Linked DNA regions of Homo sapiens. The protein of the gene in region 2 interacts with the protein of the main gene of each other region in a pairwise test. Each region holds a gene or a part of one and is shown on either strand. Other genes may lie near its edges.

Region 1 (4,273 bases), on a different chromosome or scaffold from region 2:
CAGGGCTCCCGCCGGTCCCCTCCCAGGATGGTGGTGGCAGCGGCCGCATCGCAGGACAGATCTGTGGAGATAGAGAAGATCATGAGGTGCCCCTGGATGCATCTCCCAGGCAAGGGCCAGGCCCGGGGAGATGAATTCCGGCTGCATAGGGCCCAGAGGAAGGTGGATCCAGGAAGGCAGGAGAGAAAAGAGAAGACCCTCTGCACGCTGCGTTTGAGGGAGAACTTCCAGGAGTTTTGACAGCAGAGAGCAGATGCTAGTGGTTTCCTAGAGAGGGGTTTTGAGGGAAGTGTTGCTGGGAGTCATGAACAGACCTGTCTGGCGGCTTTTCTCAAGGACACCTCAGCAAAGAACTAGCATTTCAGCCTCTCTGGGGAGACTGGATTGCAGTTTCCATTCCACAGAATCAGTGTGGTTCAGCTGGGCTCGGTGGGAGGGGCTGGTGGTGGGAATCTGCCAGGCAGTGCCAGTCCCATCCCATGACCTCCCAATAGATGCGCCACATGAGGCAGGTGGCACCAGCACGACGCGCGCAGCTCGAACACTCTGGGCTTCATGCCTCGCTCTGCCTCCTCTCTCTGCTGTCCTTGCTACCTACACTTGAGGCCAACATGTCAGGGTTTCACCAGGCCCCTCTGACCCTGCTCCCCTCCTGCACCCAGGGAGATGGGGAAGCCAGGGGCCACCACACGCAGCCAAGTTTCTGGAGAACAGAGATGAAGTGTCCCGTGGAGGCTTTGCTGGAGCATCTGGCCACAAGGGCAGTGGTGGGCAGGAACGGAGACCATGGAGCCCAGCAAGAGCACAGGACAGCTTCAGAGGGCCAACAGCAGCCTCTGGCTGAGTCCTCTCCTTGGTGGCAGCCACCCCATGGGTGACCACCAGTTCCTTCCCGGGTGCTGGGAGTTCCCACCCTGCCCTGTGGGCCTTCTCTGGGTCCCATGATGCACTCCCCCAACCCGCTGGGCAGGCTTCAGTATGAGGAGGCTCTGGTACTCAGTAAACGTCTGTGAGCTAACACACCTCCAGCTGAGAAAGGAGTCCATAGGAAGTAGCCCTCATGGGTCAGAAAGGACTTAGGGGACTCAGGAAGATGGAAGAAAACCCCTCCGAGGTTGCGGCACACCAGACCGCTATGGTTTTCTGCCTCCTGGACTCTTACTGGCCTGTATTTTATCACAGGCGAGATCACATTGCACATTCAGTTTTGAATCTAGCTATTTTCACCCAACCTAATCTCATAAGCATTTTCCTGTGTGCTCTAAATGCTCATAAGCTTCATTTTAAATGTCTCCATTATGTCCACTCCCTCACTTGGACCTAGGCCAAAGGCACCTCTGTTTGAAGCATCCAATGAAGGCCCTTCAGAGCCCAGGCCAGGTCTTGCCCAAGGTGGGGGAGCGGCGGCACACAGGGGCCAGCTCTCCAGGCTGCAGATGCCTGCCTGGTGGCTCCTGCTCTCCCGCACTCACTGGTGACCAGGACAACATCTCTTGCACCTCAGCTTTCTCATCTACAAAGCAGAGCCAGGATTAGAGTTGAAGCTGAAAGAAGGGGGACCCTGTTGCCAGGCTGCTCCAGCTCCCCTCAGCAGCATCAGAGCCCTGAGCCCTGAACCACCAGCCAAAACTTGTCACCCAAGGGCTTTGCTGCTGGGGTGATGGGACATCCAGGGGGTCCTGAGACAAGGGGGTCCTTTGGGTTCTTGCATGCCTGACACCCAACATCAGGAGTGGGCGTGGCTGGTGGGGCATCACTGGGTGCCCTGAAGCTGGGCTCTTGGTTCTGGCCCCTGGTGTGGCCCCCAGGGCAGGGGAACGGCTGAGCTGTTGGGATGGAGCAGAAACCAAAGGCCAAAGGTTTTTATAACTCATTCAAGGTCACCAAGCAAGCCAGAACAGAGCCAGCACAAGACCCTGGGGCTGGGAAGTCTGGGCCTGCACTCCCTGCCTCCCACCTAGAGCAGAGGCAGCAGCCTGTGTCACCCCAAACCAGGCCCCAGGCCCCAGCAGTGGTCCCATCTCTGGGTGACTTCTTGCCCACAGCAAGGTGCCCTTGGCCCTACCCACACATGGCTGACCTCCACGCCAGGACTGTCCAGGCTCGGCTCTTTCTAGGCCCCGTAGACCCCATCAGCCTCCACCAGCATTTGTTGACCCAGCCTAAGGACAGGTGGTCTGCACACCCAGGGCCATTGCTAATCAGGCCACCTCCCCCAAGGCCTTCCACCTTCCAGACCCAACTTAGGCTTTATTCCACCACCTGGCCCTCCATCCGGGCTTCCTAGGCTCTGGCCAGTCCTGCTCCTCCCTCCAGAGCCATGACCAGTCGCCGGCCCAGGACAGACCGGGTGCAACTGAGGACCCTCCCGGTGGTCACCTGATCGTACTGGGGGTATCAGCCGGACACCCCGCCTCCAGAACCCGCTGCCTCTGTCCAGAGCGGCCCAGCCCCAGCAGGCTGGCAGCTCGGTGCAAACAACGGGATGCAGCGGGCGGGATGCGAGCCCCACGATCCCTGGGTCGGAAGCCAAGGGCTTAAGCCCCCACGTTCTTTCTGGCTCGCGGCGGGCACTTCGTGCGCCCCACCTTCCCCGCAGTTCTGAGAGAGGCGGTAGCAGGGTTCAGATGGAGGGAAGGACAGGGCGCGGAAAGGGGAGGGGACTCGAGGGGGGCCAGGGGGATGGGGGAGAGGGGTGAAAGGTGAGCGATGGAAAGAGAACCCGGGCTGGAGAGGGGAGAGGCTGAAGGCAGGGAAAGAGTGGCCACGGCCTCACCTGTGCGGGGCCCGGGTCGGTCCGCCTCGGGCAGCAGCAGCTCGGCGCGGGCAGCCTCCCCAGGCATGGCCTGGCCGTGCGCCCGCCCGTCCCTCAGTCCTTCCGACCCTCCGTCAGTCCGTGCCGCCGCCCCGCCGAGCCTGCGCGGCCACCGCCCCTCGGCCGGGCGGTGGGGGCAGTGGGTGACGTCAGGCCGCCCCGCCCGCCTGTCCCAGCGAGTGAGCGTGCGCGGGCTCGCCAGGCACTGCGGAGGGCGTAGGGGGGGCTCCCTCCCCGCCCCCACCCCACCCGGCTGTGGCCTCCCTCTCGCTGTGGGCGGTTTCGTGGGGGAGCGGGGGTGGGCGCCTGCGCCCGGTCCCACCCTTTCCACAGCATTTACGAGGGAGGGTTTCAGGGCCAATTGGAAGCTGGGTTGCCTCAGGGTGGCATTCGCCCGTGGCCAGGAAGAGGCGGGGACGCCCCTAGAACCCTGGTTGTGGGAGGCTGGGGAGGTGGTTGGGATTCTGGGATGCTCGGAGCGCTTTGGGTGGAGTTGGCGGCGCAGCCTCCTTCCCCGCTGACCAAGCAGAGGGTGCAGGGCCTGGGGAGGGAGGGGGCCCCGCCCAGCCCGATGCCTCCATGCAAAAGGTGAGCTGGAGCTGCAGCTCTGGAGTGATTGGCTGGTCCTGGCAGTCGTCGGTCTCCGTGGCAACCGCCTCCTGTCTCCATGGCAACCAGGGATGGAGCCGACGAGAGCGCACCAGGGAAGGCGACCCGGATGGGTCGGTCTCCAGGTCTCTAGGCAACTCGGTGATCTGTCCTATCATCTCCCCTCCACCCCCACACTAGGCAGTAGAAGGAAAAGGAAGAAAGTGTTTCCCTCTATTCCTGGCAGCACCCTCTGCCACACCTCCCAGGAGGAAGCCCGCCCCGTGAATTTCCTGAAATGCCTCTTGCTTTCACACAGGCTACTGCGCCACCCAGATTCACTGAGCACCCCTCCTCCCCCGTGCCAGGCACCAGGGAGACAGATGAATGAGACATTGTCATCACCCCTGACTGGGGTGGGGGGAATCAGAGTAGCCATTGTCACAGGCAGGGAGGGAGGTTTCAACATCCTCAGTCTTCTGTGGGTTCTAACTTTGAGCTCATGAAGCCAGGGGCTGCCCTCTGACTCCCCCAGACCTGCCTCAAGGCTCAGTGCTACACACCTGGCTGCCTGCTGGGCATCTCTCCCCGCTGTACCCCAGGAGTCAGACACACCACACCATTAGAATTAACATCAACTTCAAACAATCTCTTCCAGAAAACAAAAGAGAAGGGGACACTTCCTAACTCATTTTATAAGGCAAGAAATATCCTGATGTCAAAACTAACAATGTGTCGCCAGGCGCGGAGGCTCACGCCTGTAATCCCAGCACTTTGGGAGGCCGAGGCTGGCGGATCACGAGGTCAGGAGATCGAGGCCATTCTGGCTAACGTGGTGAAACCCCGTCTCTACTAAAAATACAGAAAATG
Region 2 (3,801 bases):
GACCAGCCTGACCAACATAGAGAAACCCTGTCTCTACTAAAAATACAAAATTAGCCAGGCGTGGTGGCGCGTGCCTGTAATCCCAGCTACTTGGGAGGCTGAGGCAGGAGAATTGCTTGAACCCAGGAGGCGGAGGTTGCAGTGAGCCGAGATTGTGCCATCGGACTCCAGCCCGGGCAATGAGAGTGAAACTCGGTCTCAAAAAAAAAGAAAAAGAAAAAAGGAATGAAGAAATGAGAGCATGGAGGGGCTGGGGAGGATGCAGGCTCCAGCCCCACCAGGTTGCACAGACTGCACACGGCCCATTTCACAGATGGGAAAACAGGCCCGGGGCAGTGAATGAACTTCAAAAGGCAAATGGCCTGCCCTCTGCTTCTCCAGCAGAGGCAACAGCCCTGTGGGGCCAGGGGGTGGCTTGCCTTGCTGTCGGGGTAGAAGTAGTGAGGAAAAGTTATCAGAGGGGCCGTTGCCTTGGCCACTGAGTGTCCCCTAACCCTCCAGGGGACCCTCTCAGCCTGTTTCTTCCTCTGGGGAATGGGGCTTCCTGTCAGCAGCCCTGCCACCTCCACCCAGTGGCCCATGTCCTGTTTGTACCTTCTGCCAGGACATGGAGGAAGCCAATGTCTGTCTCTCACTGTCCCTGGTCCTCGTCCCTCCCTCTCCCCACATTCCTCCCACTCTCCTCCCCATCTGGTCTTTGGATGGGACAAAAGCATATATTTTGTATTTGTTTTTTCTCCAAACAACTCCAGTTCTCTGTTCTTTGCATTCAAAGTGCTCACTGTGCCTCTGCCATTTCCCGAACACAAGCTCAAAGCTGCCTGTGACCTGTTGGGGCTCTGATGGGCCTGTTTCCTGTAGGTCCTGCGCCAAAGCAGACTCACTTGGGGACTGAGCTCAGGAAGCCCCAAGGCCACCGGGCTCCAGATGTGGTCCTGGAGTGAGCACGTTGCAGGAAGGGGGCTCCTGAGCTCCCCAGCTGTTGCAGCCACTGGCCTGGCCTCCCCTACCCTCTGCACTCAGTCCACTGCTTCCCACACCACCCACCTGGTCATGACAATGTCGGGGGCCCATAGCCCAGGGCCCCTCCCTTCAGAGCCCAGCCCCACCAAGCCATGGACTGACGCAGGTCCCACTTGCACATCTAATAAGCATGTTCATGCAACAAAATTGAATTCAGCTCCCCCTGAAACTGCTCCACCTTCAGCTGATGACAGCTGCATTCTTCCTGACACCCAGGCCAAAAACCTTGGAGCCATCCTTGACTCCTCTTTCTCTTTCATCAGGAAATCCTACTGGCTCAACTTGCAAAAGAGAATCAGAATCTGACTGTTTTTCTCTTCTGTTTTTCTTTTTTTTTTGAGACGGAGTCTTGCTCTGTTGCCCAGGCTGGAGTGCAATGGTGCGATCTCGGCTCATTGCAACCTCCGCCTCCCAGGTTCAAGCTATTCTCCTGCCTCAGCCTCCCGAGTAGCTGGGATTACAGGCGCCCGCCACCATGCCCGGCTAATTTTTGTATTTTTACTAGGGACGGGGTTTCGCCATGTTGACCAGGCTGGTCTCGAACTCCTGACTCAGTTGATCCACTCGCCAAAGCCTCCCAAAGTGCGGGATTACAGGCGTGAGCCACTGTGCCTGGCCCCCAGGCAAACTCTTAACAGCTCCCCAGCTCACCAGGCTGCTCCGCCCCAACACATACTAACATATACTTGCTCTTCCCCCTGCCTGGAGTGCCATTCCCTACCTCACCTGCCTAGAAACCCTGACACACTTTCGAACCTCCCAAGCTTGCCCGGTCTCTGAGGCCTCTCCACACCTCCCAGCTCTCCCTCTAACTGGACCTCAGTACCGGCTGCTAACTGTCCACATTTCCCTTTTTCTTTTTTTTGAGACAAGGTCTTGCTCTGTTGCCCAGGCTTCAATGCAGTGGTACGATCGCGATCACAGTTCACTTCAACCTCAACCTCCTGGGTTCAAGCAATCCTCCCACCTCAGCCTCCTGAGTGGCTGGGACCACCAACACACAACGCCATGCCTACATCACCATGCTCAGCTAAGTTTTCGATTTTTTTTTTTTTTTTTTTTGAGATGCAGTCTCACTCTGTCGCCCTGGCTGGAGTGCAGTGGTGCAATCTCCACTCACTGCAACCTCTGCCTCTAGGGTTCAAGTGATTCTTCTGCCTCAGCCTCCCGAGTAGCTGGGACTACAGGTGCGCACCACTACACCCAGCTAATTTTTGTATTTTCAGTAGAGACGGGGTTTCACCATATTAGCCAGGCTGGTCGTAAACTCCTGACCTCATGATCCGCCCACCTCGGCCTCTCAAAGTGCTAGGATTATAGGCCTGAGCCACTGCGCCTGGCCCCATTTTTTGATTTTTTGGGCTTTTTTTCTTTCTTTTTTGAGACAGACTCTTGCTGTCGGCCAGGCTGGAGTGCAGTGGCGTGATCCCGGCTCACTGCAACCTCTGCCTCTCAGGTTCAAGCGATTCTCCTGTCTCAGCCTCCCGAGTAGCTGGGACTACAGGCATGTGCCACCACGCCCGGCTAATTTTTTTTGTATTTTTAGTACAGACGGGGTTTCACTATGTTAGCCAGGATAGTCTCCATCTCCTGACCTCGTGATCCATCCGCCTTGGCCTCCCAAAGTGCTGGGATTACAGGCGTGAGCCCCCCCGCCCAGACTTTTTTGATTTTTTGTAGAGACAAGGTCTCCCTGTGTTTTCAGGCTGATTTCAAACACATGGCCTCACACAATCCTTCTGCCTCGGATTACAGGATTGGGATTACAGGCATGAACCACCACACCCAGCCCCGCTGTTTCTTGAAAGCAAGGACTCATGGGAATCCTTGAAAGCAAGGACTCATGGGAATCCTTGAAAGCAAGGACTTGCCCATCTCCCCCATTTCTTGAAAGCGAGGACTCATGGGATTCTCCATGTCCCGAAGCCCAGCATAGGGGCCAACATAGCATAAGTGCTCAGTAAACGTTTGCTTAACTGTCAAGCCCCACATCCGAACAACCACAGCTCCTACAACTTGGAAAGCACTTTCACATCCACTGTCTCCTTCTTGCCTCCCAACAAGCCGGCGGGAGGGGGTGGGAAGGCCATCAATTGTATTGACAGAGGAGGAAACGGGCGCTCAGAGAGACAACACGTCTAAGATTGCTGCAATCCCAGGAACTGGCAAGGCCATGTTCCAGCCCCTCCCTGCCCCTCTGCCTCCCGCTCCCTGCACGCCCAAGATCCCTGACCTGGGGATGATGCGCTGGGTGAGGCGGTTGGTGGGGATGGAGAGGGGAACCTGTTGCTGTAGCCTCCGCTGCTCAAACAGGCCTGGGAGGTCATGGGCCCAGATGTGCGTGGATTTCCCTGCAGAAACAGGAAGAGGCCAGGCCTGGGGTGTTGGTGGGCAGGATGCTGAGGCGCTGGAGCCCCTGCGGACCCTGCCTCCCTGCCCATCCCACCTTGTACCTGAGAGTGACAGCAGCACGTTGTTCACGCAGTAGAGCCAGGAGCAGCGATGTGAAATCAGCTGGAGGCCACAGAGGGACAGATGGTCAGCACCCCAGGCCCCCACAAGGCCTCTGCCCCCCACAGCCAGCCGGGCCTCACCTTCTCCAGCGTATCCTCATGCAGTTCATGCAGGTTGAGTGTGTAGATGCCTTCCTCGGCCCCTACCACCAGGAACTGGTCTGCCAGTTTGGGCATGGGGTCAGAGGTCAGACATGGCCCCTGGCCCAAGCTGAGGGATTCCTTGGGCTCCCGCTTCCTCCCTGCCCCCACCTACCCCGAGTAA

Evidence for each region.
Region 1: the proteins of MAP4K2 (region 2) and NACAD interact in a two-hybrid assay, tested with the Homo sapiens proteins (one large-scale study listed by BioGRID and IntAct).

Annotation. Positions count from the first base shown.
Region 1 is NC_000007.14:45,086,052-45,090,324, forward strand, and holds the start of NACAD (NAC-alpha domain-containing protein 1), read right to left. Parts: upstream 2,919-4,273; 5' UTR 2,844-2,918; coding exon 2,777-2,843; intron 62-2,776; coding exon 1-61. UniProt on the Homo sapiens protein: May prevent inappropriate targeting of non-secretory polypeptides to the endoplasmic reticulum (ER).
Region 2 is NC_000011.10:64,793,017-64,796,817, forward strand, and holds part of MAP4K2 (mitogen-activated protein kinase kinase kinase kinase 2), read right to left. Parts: coding exon 3,793-3,801; intron 3,698-3,792; coding exon 3,618-3,697; intron 3,538-3,617; coding exon 3,477-3,537; intron 3,375-3,476; coding exon 3,257-3,374; intron 1-3,256. UniProt on the Homo sapiens protein: Serine/threonine-protein kinase which acts as an essential component of the MAP kinase signal transduction pathway.